2 separate regions of the Homo sapiens genome follow, and region 1 is linked to region 2. The links come from fine-mapping of genetic effects on gene expression. A gene starts in region 2. The other region holds a variant in brackets. All regions are shown on one strand. Distances are between the middles of the regions. Region 1 has its middle 22 kb from the start of WWOX. Region 2 holds the start of CLEC3A (C-type lectin domain family 3 member A).

What was found. PIP is the estimated chance that this variant, and not a neighbour inherited with it, causes the effect.
Region 1: its variant is the best candidate, but not a certain one, in a credible set for the expression of CLEC3A in coronary artery (GTEx, PIP 0.60).

The regions. Positions count from the first base shown.
Region 1 is chr16:78,075,082-78,080,464 of GRCh38, reverse strand. No RefSeq gene overlaps it. Among named protein-coding and RNA genes, the nearest start is that of WWOX, 22 kb to the left of the region's middle. The variant G/A (reference allele first, on the strand shown) is at 3,210.
Region 2 is chr16:78,019,943-78,025,325 of GRCh38, reverse strand. CLEC3A (C-type lectin domain family 3 member A) reads right to left here and starts at 2,778. Exons shown (of 3, transcript NM_005752.6): 1 at 2,585-2,778. The coding sequence starts at 2,699. RefSeq lists an enhancer at 4,974-5,143.

The sequences.
Region 1 (5,383 bases), 55 kb before region 2:
ATGAAAAGAGATTAGCATCTGGGAGAGAACTTATGCTGCCTGGGCTTATATACAGTACCTCATTGCATATCCCAGCCACCATTTAGAGAGGCTCTCCCGCCTCCATTATGCTGACAAGCACATCAAGAATGAAGGAGATGAAATTACACGGTTGTGGTTCTTCCCACAGCTAATCTTGGAGCTAGCATCCTAGTAAGAGCTGGCCACAGTGCTAGGTGTTTCAGACTGAAAAGCTAAGAACATTTCTAGCATTTGTTTAATAAAGGTAAATTAATTAGGATCTGGTTAGCCATAAAACTAGATATTAAAATAGCTTACTAAACCTAGATAACCTCTATCCCTAATAGAGATTAATATCTTGAATAAAAGACATGTGATTATAAAAACCTAGAAGAGAAGGGTCTACTCTTTTTTGAGACAGGGTCTCCCTCTGTTGGCCAGGCTGGAGGGCAGTGGTGCAATCATAGCTCACTACAGCCTCGAACTCCTGGCTTCAAGTGATCTTTCTGCCTCATCCTCCCAAGTAGCTGGGACTGATGGAAGACAGGTGAGCCCCAAATTGGGGCTTAGCCTGCAAGAGTTCTTGGCTTCACCCAAGAAAGAATTTAAGGGTAAGCTGTTAGTAGAGTAGAAGAAAACAGTTTACTGAAGCAGCAGTGTTATAGCTCCGGCAGTGTTGCAGCTCTGTGACTGCCCCTGCAGAGCAGGACTATGCCATAGGCAGAAAGTAGCAGCTCAGGGCAGTTCTGCATTCATATTTATACCTACTTTTAATTGCATGCAGATTAAGAAGCAGTTTATGCAGAAATTTCTAGGGAAAGGGTAGTAACTTCTGGGTCATTGGGTTGTTGCCATGGAAAGGGAAACTCACAGGCATTGCCATGGCAATGGTAAACTGACATGGCACACTGGTGGGCATGTCTTATGGAAAGCTGCTTCTACCCCCTCCCTGATTTAGCTAGTCCTCAATTTGGTCCAGTGTTCGAGCCCACCTCTAGAGTTGAGTGCCACCTCATGCCTTAGGACTACAGGCATGAGACACCATGCCCGGCTAAGAGAAGTGTCTTCAAAGTGAAGTACATACCTGTCTCACCCCACCTTTCCTCTTTACTAGAAAATGGACATGATGTACGGAACTTGTGCAACTATGATCCAATGAAACTTCTTTGCTTTATAAATTACCCAGTCTCAGGTATTTCTTTATAGCAGTATGAGAATGGACTAATGTGTGCCCTGACATAGGAATTAATTCACCATTAGTCCAATTCATTCAAGGCAACCCATTCCTCCTGGCCCTAGTCAAGACCTGAGCCTAGTCAAGGCTCAGCACAAATACAGCTTCCCCTGGAAGCCTTCACAGGCCCTCCAGAACCTTTGCTATGGTTTATTTATTACCCTATATGTCTCCTTATAGCATTTATCTTTATTTTAGTTGAAAAAAAATATTTTAAGTGTGTTAGTCATTTAATGTCTGTTTCACCCAACAGAATGTTAGTGACTTTAGACAGGGACCATGTCTTAGTCATCACTGTAATCCCCAGTACCTAGTAAATTGCCTGGCAAATAATAGGTGCTTAGTGAATATTTGCTGAGTGAATGACAGCTTTCTGAAGAGAAGTTTGAAATGATGCAGATACTCTATCACCTGGCATGTTCTGCTCGGAGATGCTGGTTAGCAAGCTGCAACTATAAGTGGCTTATACAGTTAAGACAAAAGTATTTCTTATAATCAGAACTCCTGACTTAGAGTGGTTTCAGGGCTGGTTAATTCCAGAACCCAGGCTCTTTTCTTTTTTTTTTTTTTCTACACAGGGCCCTGCTCTGTCATTCAGGCTGGACTGCCATGCCATGATGACTGTTCACTGCAACCTCAAACTCCTGGGCTCAAGTGATCCTCCTGCCTCAGCCTCCCAAGTAGCTGAGACTACAGGCATGCAGCACCATGCCTGGCTAATCCAGGCTCTTTTAATCTTTTCATTCTGCTATTCTCTTCAGGGCATCAGCTGGCTCCACTCATGGTTCCTAATATACTGACCTTAATTCCAAGGTGAGAAGATTATATCCAGGAGCAGAAAAACATTCCTTCCTTGTGCCCTTGCTCAAGAATGAAAGAAATCTCCCTGTACACCCTTCATTGGCCAGAATTTTGCAACACACTCATCCTTGATCATTGGCAAGGGCGATGGCATTCTGATGATCACTTTAGACTAAACCAGACTCAGTATTGAGTCCAGGAAGGAGCCCAGTTTTACCGCTTCCCTGGCCCATGAATGCAGTCATGACTGCATTGGCACAAAAGATGCTGGGTGTGTGTGCATGCGTGTGCCTGTGTGTTTGCTGATGCTGGGGTGAGAAGAGGAGTTTTATAAGCACCCAAGAATGCCTGCCATCCACCCTCACTGTGCATCAATAGGCTAGTAACATGCAGAAACTCATTAGAAGAAATATTGGCATCCAAATACTGTGTGTAGCCATGGAAGAAAAGTGCAATTTGCCTTAAAAACATTCCTATTTTTCAGGGTCATTCAGATGGCAATGGAGTGCTGATTAAATCCACTGAAGTCAGTAATTCACTGCAGACAAAAAATAAAAAAAAGGGGCCTCATAGTTACTTTCACTGTAATTCAAATATTAATGCCCTCATTTTCAGAAATTTAAAAGAAGTCAGATTACACAGATTTAGTGACTAATATAAAAACCAAAAGAAGGTGAACATTACAAGATACCAAGTCAAAATATTTACCATATAACAACAATAATAGCAGCAAGTAACATTACGTACATAGTGTTTATTTTGTGTTTCAGTGCCAGGCACTGGTAGTGGTATACTGGCATTATTTTACCTGATCACAAATACAAGGAATTCACAGGCTGCCTTGATGGTTTTAAAAATCTTTTTATAGAGCAACTGGAATATTTATATTCAATAGGCAAGAAGAGAGAAATATGTAATATATAGTACTAGAATATAACAATAATACAATAAGTATAATATATTGAGCCATTTGAAAGAACTAGGTGCAGTGGCTCACGCCTATAATCCCAGCACTTTGGGAGGCCAAGGTGGGTGGATCACCTGAGGTCAGGAGTTTGAAAGCAGCCTGGCCAACATGGTGAAACCCCATCTGTACTAAAAATACAAAAAGTAGCTGGGCATGGTGGCGGGCACCTGTAATCCCAGCTACTTGGGAGGCTGAGGCACAAGAATC[G/A]CTTGAACACGAGAGGTGGTGGTTGCAGTGAGCTGAGATCGTGCCATTGCACTCCAGCCTGGGTGACAGAATGAGACTCCATCTCAAAAAAAAAAAAAAAAAAGAACTAGATTGAGCATGGAGGTTCATATCTATCATGCCTGTAATCTAGCACTTGGGAGGCAAAGGTGGGTGGATCGCTTGAGTCTGAGAGTTTGAGATCAGCCTGGGCAACATGACAAATACCCATCTCTACAAAAATTATAAAAATTATTCAGGCATGGCGGTTCCCACATGTAGTCTAAGCTACTTGAGAGGCTGAGACGGGAGGATCACTTGAGCCCAGGAGGCAGAGGTTGCAGTGAGCCCTGACTGTACTACTGCACTCTAGCCTGGCTAATGGAGGGAGTCTCTGTCTTAAAAAGAAAAAAGAACCAATTTTTTTTATTGATTAAGGAAAGTTAGGGCATTAATAAATGTGAAAACCTTAGATGACACCAAAAAGTGTCAATTTTTGTTTGTTTGTTTTTGAGACAGAGTTTTGCTCTTGTCACCCAGGCTGGTGTGCAATGGCACAATCTTGGCTCACTGCAACTTCCACCTCCTGGATTCAAGCGATTCTCCTGCCTCAGCCTCCCAAGTAGCTGGGACTACAGGGGCCTGTCATCACGCCTGGCTAATTTTTGCATTTTTGGTAGAGACGGGGTTTCACCATGTTGGCCAGGCTGGTCCCGAACTCCTAACCTCAGGTGATCCACCCGCCTCAGCCTCCCAAAGTGCTGGGATTACAGGCGTGAGCCACTGCGCCCAGCTTAAAAGTGCCAATTGTTATTTAGAGTGAGGCAATGGTCAGCAGATCAAGGTAACCATTGGACCAGTTAGTGTCCTCTTCAATGTCACATCCCTGCCTGCCCTGCCTCTGGGGTAAGGCTGCCCCTCCAGCACTATGCAGTGTGGCAGCCCGTGAGAGGCCAGTCTTCTCCAGACTTCCCTGTTGGGAAATGGCACCACCATACTCCGAGCTCCAAATGCTACACACCCAGCAGCCAAGCTTGACCCTGTTGATTCTGTCCCAAAATGCATGAATCCCATGCATGAATATTGGGTGTTGTCTGGGAGCGTTGGCCCACATTTACTGCCTCTGGAACCCAGCATGGTGGAACGGCTGCTCTTTCAAGTGATGCTGGTTGCTAATTGCCATGGCATAAAGAAAGAGAGCTCTGGAGGGTCTCACAATGGTGATTAAATGACCTGTCGCTTCTATTCACAAAGCATTGGTGAGAGCAAGTTTCATAGCCCTACCCAACCACAAGGGGCCAAGGAAGCACAATCCTATGAAGGGACCAGAAGGCAGGCAGTTGGAACTATTCAGGAAACAGCACCAATCACCAGCTCCCCAGCCCTCTCACCATTTCAAATACCTTTGTCACCCTATTTATTTCTTTCATAGGAAACCACTATGAGAAATATCACTAACATCTTATTCATCATTTGCAGTTTTATTGTCTGTCTTCCCCTCTAGAATTGAATCTCCAACATGACACTGCTCGTCTGTCTTGTTTGTCATTATGTCTTCAGTACCCAGTGCAGTGCCTGCCACACGCTGGGAGCTCGTTCATTTACTCATTCATTCATACTACCAAATTATTGAACATATTAGTGTCCTTGAGTTAGCCTCACAAAGTGTCACAAATTGGGCAGCTTACAACTAATTTATTTTCTCATAGTTCTGAAAGTCAAAAGTCAGTCGGAAGTTAAGGTATCAACAAGGCCACACTCTGCTCCCTCTGAAGGCTCTAGAAGGTAATCTTTCCTTGCCTCTTACAGCCTCTGGTGGCTCCCAGGCTCATTGCCGCATCACCCCAATCTCTGCTTCCATCTTCAATGGCTTTTCCTTTCTGTTGCTTAAAAAGATACTTGTCATTAGATTGAAGGCCTACTCAGGTAATCCAGGGTGATATCATCTAAGATTCTTAACATAATTATATCTTCAAAGACCTTTTTTTTCCCCCAAGTAAGATCACATTCACAGGTTCTAGGGCTTAGGATGTGGACATGCATTTTGGGGGGGGCCACCATTCAACTCACTGTAAGCACCTACTATGTGCCACACACCATTCTAAGTGCTGAGATGACCACAGTGAACGATATGAATACAAATCCCTGACCTTATAGAGCTGAAACATTAGTGGGTG
Region 2 (5,383 bases):
GAGATGTATTGGGAGAGATCAGATTAAGTGATGACCCATCCAAACAATGGAATATTATGCAGCTGTTAAAATGAATAAAGTATTGCTTACACTGGTAACTATCCAAGGTTTAATAGATGAAATAAATTTATTTGCCTAGCCAAACATTCTGCATAGCCAATTCTTATTTTGTTAAAAATATGTATTTTAATTGTGCATTTTAAAAACTCTGGGAATAGGCTGGGTATGATGGCTCATGCCTGCAATCCCATCACCTGAGGTCAGGAGTTTGAGACTAGCCTGGCCAACATGGTGAAACCCCATCTATACTAAAAAAGATGTATGTACAAATATCAGCTGGGCATGGTGGCGAGCACCTGTAGTCCCAGCTACTTGAGAGGCTGAGGTACTAGAATTGTTTGAACCTGGTGGGTAGAGGTTGCAGTGAGCCGAGATCACACCACTGCACTCCAGCCTGGGTGGCAGAGTGAGACTCTGTCTCAAAACAAACAATCCTACAAAAAACAAAACACAAAACTTCTGGGAATAGTATTACCTGATAGTTAATAGTGGATAATTTTGTGGTGAGGATTGGGAGAGAGAAGATGGCTTTCACTTTTGATCTCTTTAACACTGGTATTATTATATTTCAAGGTACTTAAACTATTTTAAAAGTATATGGATGGGTGGGGATATAATTGCTTGATCGGTTTAGGTTTATTGCTTCACCTACTGTAGAATCTACTTTCTAGGACCTAATGGCAAAAAGTAGCAAAAACTATACTGGGGGAATGACATTTAAGAGGTGTGTACCTAGTCAGTTTTGTTTTGTTTTGTTTTTAAATAAAAGCATGTGCATGCACATGTGGTTATGACAGAGGCAGTGGGGAAGAAGGGGGTAAAGAAGTGGGAAAGAAGGTAGGGAGAGAGAAGAGAGTGGGAGGAGGAAGGGGAGGGAGGCCCCTGGAAAACCTGGATGTGACCTAAGCTGCGATTACTTCAGAAACACCCACACAGCACCCACATGCACACTCAGTCATGTTCAGACCCTCTTCACACATTCCTACTGGGTGATCGCCACTCTCACGAGGAGTGCCACTCCATCCAGCAGTGAAGAAACGCTGGCTACAGAAATGTACCATGTCACCCAGTATCTTCTCTCTCCCCTCTCCTTTCGATACCATCTTCAGCAATATGTTTCATCTACTCATGAGAAATATTTTAATCTTTCACCGAAAGAAGTACAGTATTTCTTAAGGAAAAAAGATTCCACTTAAGAAACCTTGCACTAGCCGGGCGCGGTGGCTCACGCCTGTAATTCCAGCACTTTGGGAGGCCGAGGCTGACGAATCACGAGGTCAGGAGATCGAGACCATCCTGGCTAACACGGCGAAACCTCGTCTCTACTAAAAATACAAAAAATTAGTCGAGCGTGGTGGCAGGCGCCTGTAGTCCTAGCTACTTGGGAGGCTGAGGCAGGAGAATGGCGTGAACCCAGGAGGTGGAGCTTGTAGTGAGCCAAGATTGTGTCACTGCCCTCCAGCCTGGGCGACAGAGCGAGACTCTGTCTCAGAAAAAAAAAAAAAAAAGAAACCTTGCACCAGACCTAAATTTTGTAAATAAATGTCCCTGAAAAAATGGTACTTTATAATCCTTAAAGCACAAGACCCCTTTTTACCCACCAGCCATCTGTCATGTGAAATAGACTGTAACCTTGCTGAAATTTGTGTATGTGTGTGTTGTTACTAATGGAGTGAAAATAAGGAAATAGTCATAATCTGAAATATCCTGAAATGAAAATGATGCAGAGGATGTGATAAAACATGACCCTCTGTCTTGTTTTTTTCTTTTGCTTAGGTTTCAACGTATTGCAAACACCTCGCTATCATCATTGTTCTTTTCAATTTCTTTAACCTGTTAACCCAATTCAAGTCACTCAAAATTTGAGGTTCCTGGGAGATTCAGTTTTGCATCACAATGCCTTCAAATACTAGATGACTTTGCATATTGACTTTTTTAAGTTGGAGAGATTCAATGTCTCTGACATGAAAAAGTTTAAATATATGGTATAGGTTGTCCTTATGCTGCCAAGGATATGGAAATACAGCTAATGATAACTAATGACAAAACAGGAAGTCACCATTACCAAAATCTCTATCCTCTGCTACACATTGAATAAGATTATAGTTATCTTAAAATATAACTGAATTGAGTTACTCAATATCTACTAGTGAAACAGTGTGCTCAGTTAATACATTCTTCTTGCCCCATATTAATAACACCAGATTTTCAGAAATCCACTTGAGCTTCCTCTGAAGCACATTCTATTTAAGCCCACCTAACAAAAAATATACAACACAGAATTCTTTTACTATCAAATTTTTTCCCTGTTGTTTTTTTTTAAAACCCAGCAGCCTGGTTTCTTTAAAATAAACTATCCCAGAGCATTACAAGTTCACTTAATCCCCTGAAATGCCATATAGGGATGATGGCATGGTGCCATCACCGAAGATAGTCTCCTGGAGGAGTTTGAAAATTAACATTGTCCAGCACCTCCCCACACTGTCTAAGCCTAGAATTTTGCTTGATTGAGAAGCCCCATTACCTCTCACTCGACGTTTGCTGTGCTTCCTGGCTTTTAATCTGGATGTGTGGCTGGTGGTCTGGTCCAGGAGTAAGGTGATCACCAGGATGCAAATTACAAGTCCATTCTTTGCCATGGCTCTGGGGCAAGCCTGCTGAGCCATGTTGCCAGCCCCCTTAGAGCAGCTATGGAAGGAGACTACACAGCTACATCTTGCTCTGGGATGCCTGGGGCTGGCTTATAAAAGTGAGCTTCGGAGGTTGGCTGGAATCCTGCTGACGGAATGTTTGAATGCCTCTGCTGGCCACAGCATAAGGTGGCCTCTTGTTCTTGTGCCTCATGTTAGGCTTTCTATTTATTTAATTTCTGCTGCATTTCCTAGTGATTTGCCTTTTTGGAGTGTGTCAAACTTAACTACAGGTTTAGCCTGCTTTCTTTTTTTAAATTTAAACTCTGAGAAGATTGGGGTCTTTGTGAAAAATTCTTTGATTTGGAACTCTGAAATTCACTAAATGTTCTGGAAAATGGATTCAATTTAGTTTTCAGGGCAAAAAAAAAATTGGAGAAAAAGGAAAGTTACTGCGTGTGTGTGTGTGTGTGGTGCCACAGCACCATTCAAGCCAGTGTGTCTACTCATACTCATGTGTCTGCGCAGCTCAAGTGTAGCTTGGAAGTAGTTTTCTCAGTGGGATTTATGGAGATTGCGGAAATAGATACTCGATGATAAAATATAGGGCTTTCCTCCATTAGGATTTTGTAGACTCATCAAGAATTACTTCCTTGGGGCTGCATGTGGTGGCTCACACCTGTAGTCCCAGTGGGAGGCCGAAGTGGGTGGATCCCTTGAGGTCAGGAGTTCGAGAAGAGCACGGGCAACATGGCGAAACACCATCTCTACAAAAAAATAAAAAAATTCATCAGGCATGGTGGCACACATTTGTAATGCCAGCTACCTGGGAGGTTGAGGTGTGAGAATCACCTGAGCCCCAGGAGTTCGAGATCACTGCCCTCCAGCCCGGGCAAATTACTTTCTTGGGAAAATGTACCTTACAGTGAAAAGAAAATTTTAAAAAGTGAATTATTTCCATTAGAATAAGAATTAATGTAATAGATCAATAGCTATTTTTTCAGGTCCTCACCAATCATTTTTCCTTGAACACATTAAACAACACTTTCAAGTGCATGATGTAATAGCACAGAAACCTAGTGAGAGACTCGCCGGGCGTGGTGGCTCACGCCTGTAATCCCGGCACTTTGGGACGCTGAGGTGTGTGGATCACTTGAGGTCAGGAGTTCGAGACCAGCCTGGCCAACATGAGGAAACCCTGTCTCTACTAAAAAACGCAAAAAGATTAGTTGGGCGTGGTGGCAGGAGTCTGTAGTCCCAGCTACTCTGGAGGCTGAGGCAGGAGAATCGCTTGAACTCACAAGGCAGAAGTTGCAGTGAGCCGGGATTTTGTCACAGCACTCCAGCCTGGGCGACGGAGCCAGACTCCTTCTCAAATAAAAAATAAAAATAAAATTAATGTAATGAGAAACTCAATTATTCCTACCTTTAACCATAGGCTTTAAGGGCAAGTTTTCGGGACCTGATAGGCTTTTGCATCAAAAGCAATGGACTTGCATTACAGGAATAGCCGAGAGGGAGGAATTTAGACCCAGGGAAAGGCCTTCCTGCATTCCACATGCTTATTTGGCTGACCAGGTGCAAATGGAGGGCAGTGGTTGCAGATTTGGAAGGTCTGAAGGACCAAGTTCATTTTGCCTTTGTTTTTTCTTTGAGACAATACAGAAAGAATCAAGGAATGAGTGCTTCCTTCTGAATCTTAATGAGAAAAACCACAGTCTATTTCATCTTCATTTCCTCCAAGTTAAAGCCATTTTGTAACCTACCAATATAGTAAGACCATAGTAAGACCACTGATGTAGGAAAGTCTGACATGATTCAGCAAAGTAACTGTACAATTAAAGATCTGACCTCCGGTGTTGACTCTTTGTACCAACATGGGCAGTTAATGCATGGGCATTTGAGAACATTGTGAAGACAGGCTGAGCTCAGTTCACAACCTACCGCTTAGCTGTGTGATCTCAGGCAAGTCAATAAACCTCTATAAGGCTTCTCTCATCTTAACAGTGGGGGCTAGGAATGCTTATTTTACAGGGCTGTTGGAAAGATTAAATGAGATAATGGCTATGAAGCACTTAGCGCAATGTCCAGTATTTAATAATAAGATCCTTACCATTAATTACAATGGTACATACAATTTATGGAATGCCATCTTTTTAGTCTTCACAGCAAGCCTGTGGGATAAGTAATAATATTATCTCCATTTTAAAGGTGATTGAGCCTCAAAAGTTAAGTGGTTTTTGTCTAACATCACTAAGATCTCAAGGAACTGAGTAGAAATTACAATCCAGTTTTGATTAACTCCAGAAGACCTGGGCTGTGAAAATGTGCTTTGGTTTGAACAGGGGAAAAGATCAATGATTTACACCTGATCTTACAATTGATCAAAAATTTTCTTTGCCATCTTCCTAAATCCTTTTAAAAAAATTTCAAGTTATGGGCCAGGTGTGGTGGCTCGTGCCTATAATCTTAGCACTTTGGGAGGCCGAGGCAGGAGGACTGCTTGAGCCCAGGACTTTGAGACCACCCTGGGCAATATGATGAGATCCTATCTCTACAAAAAACAGAAAAAATTAGCCGGGTGCGGTGGCACGTGCTCGTGGTCCCAGCTTGCTTAGGAGGCTGAAGTAGGAGGATGACTTGAGCCCAGGAAGTTGAGGCTACCATAGCCTCAACCGTGGTGGCCCATGTTT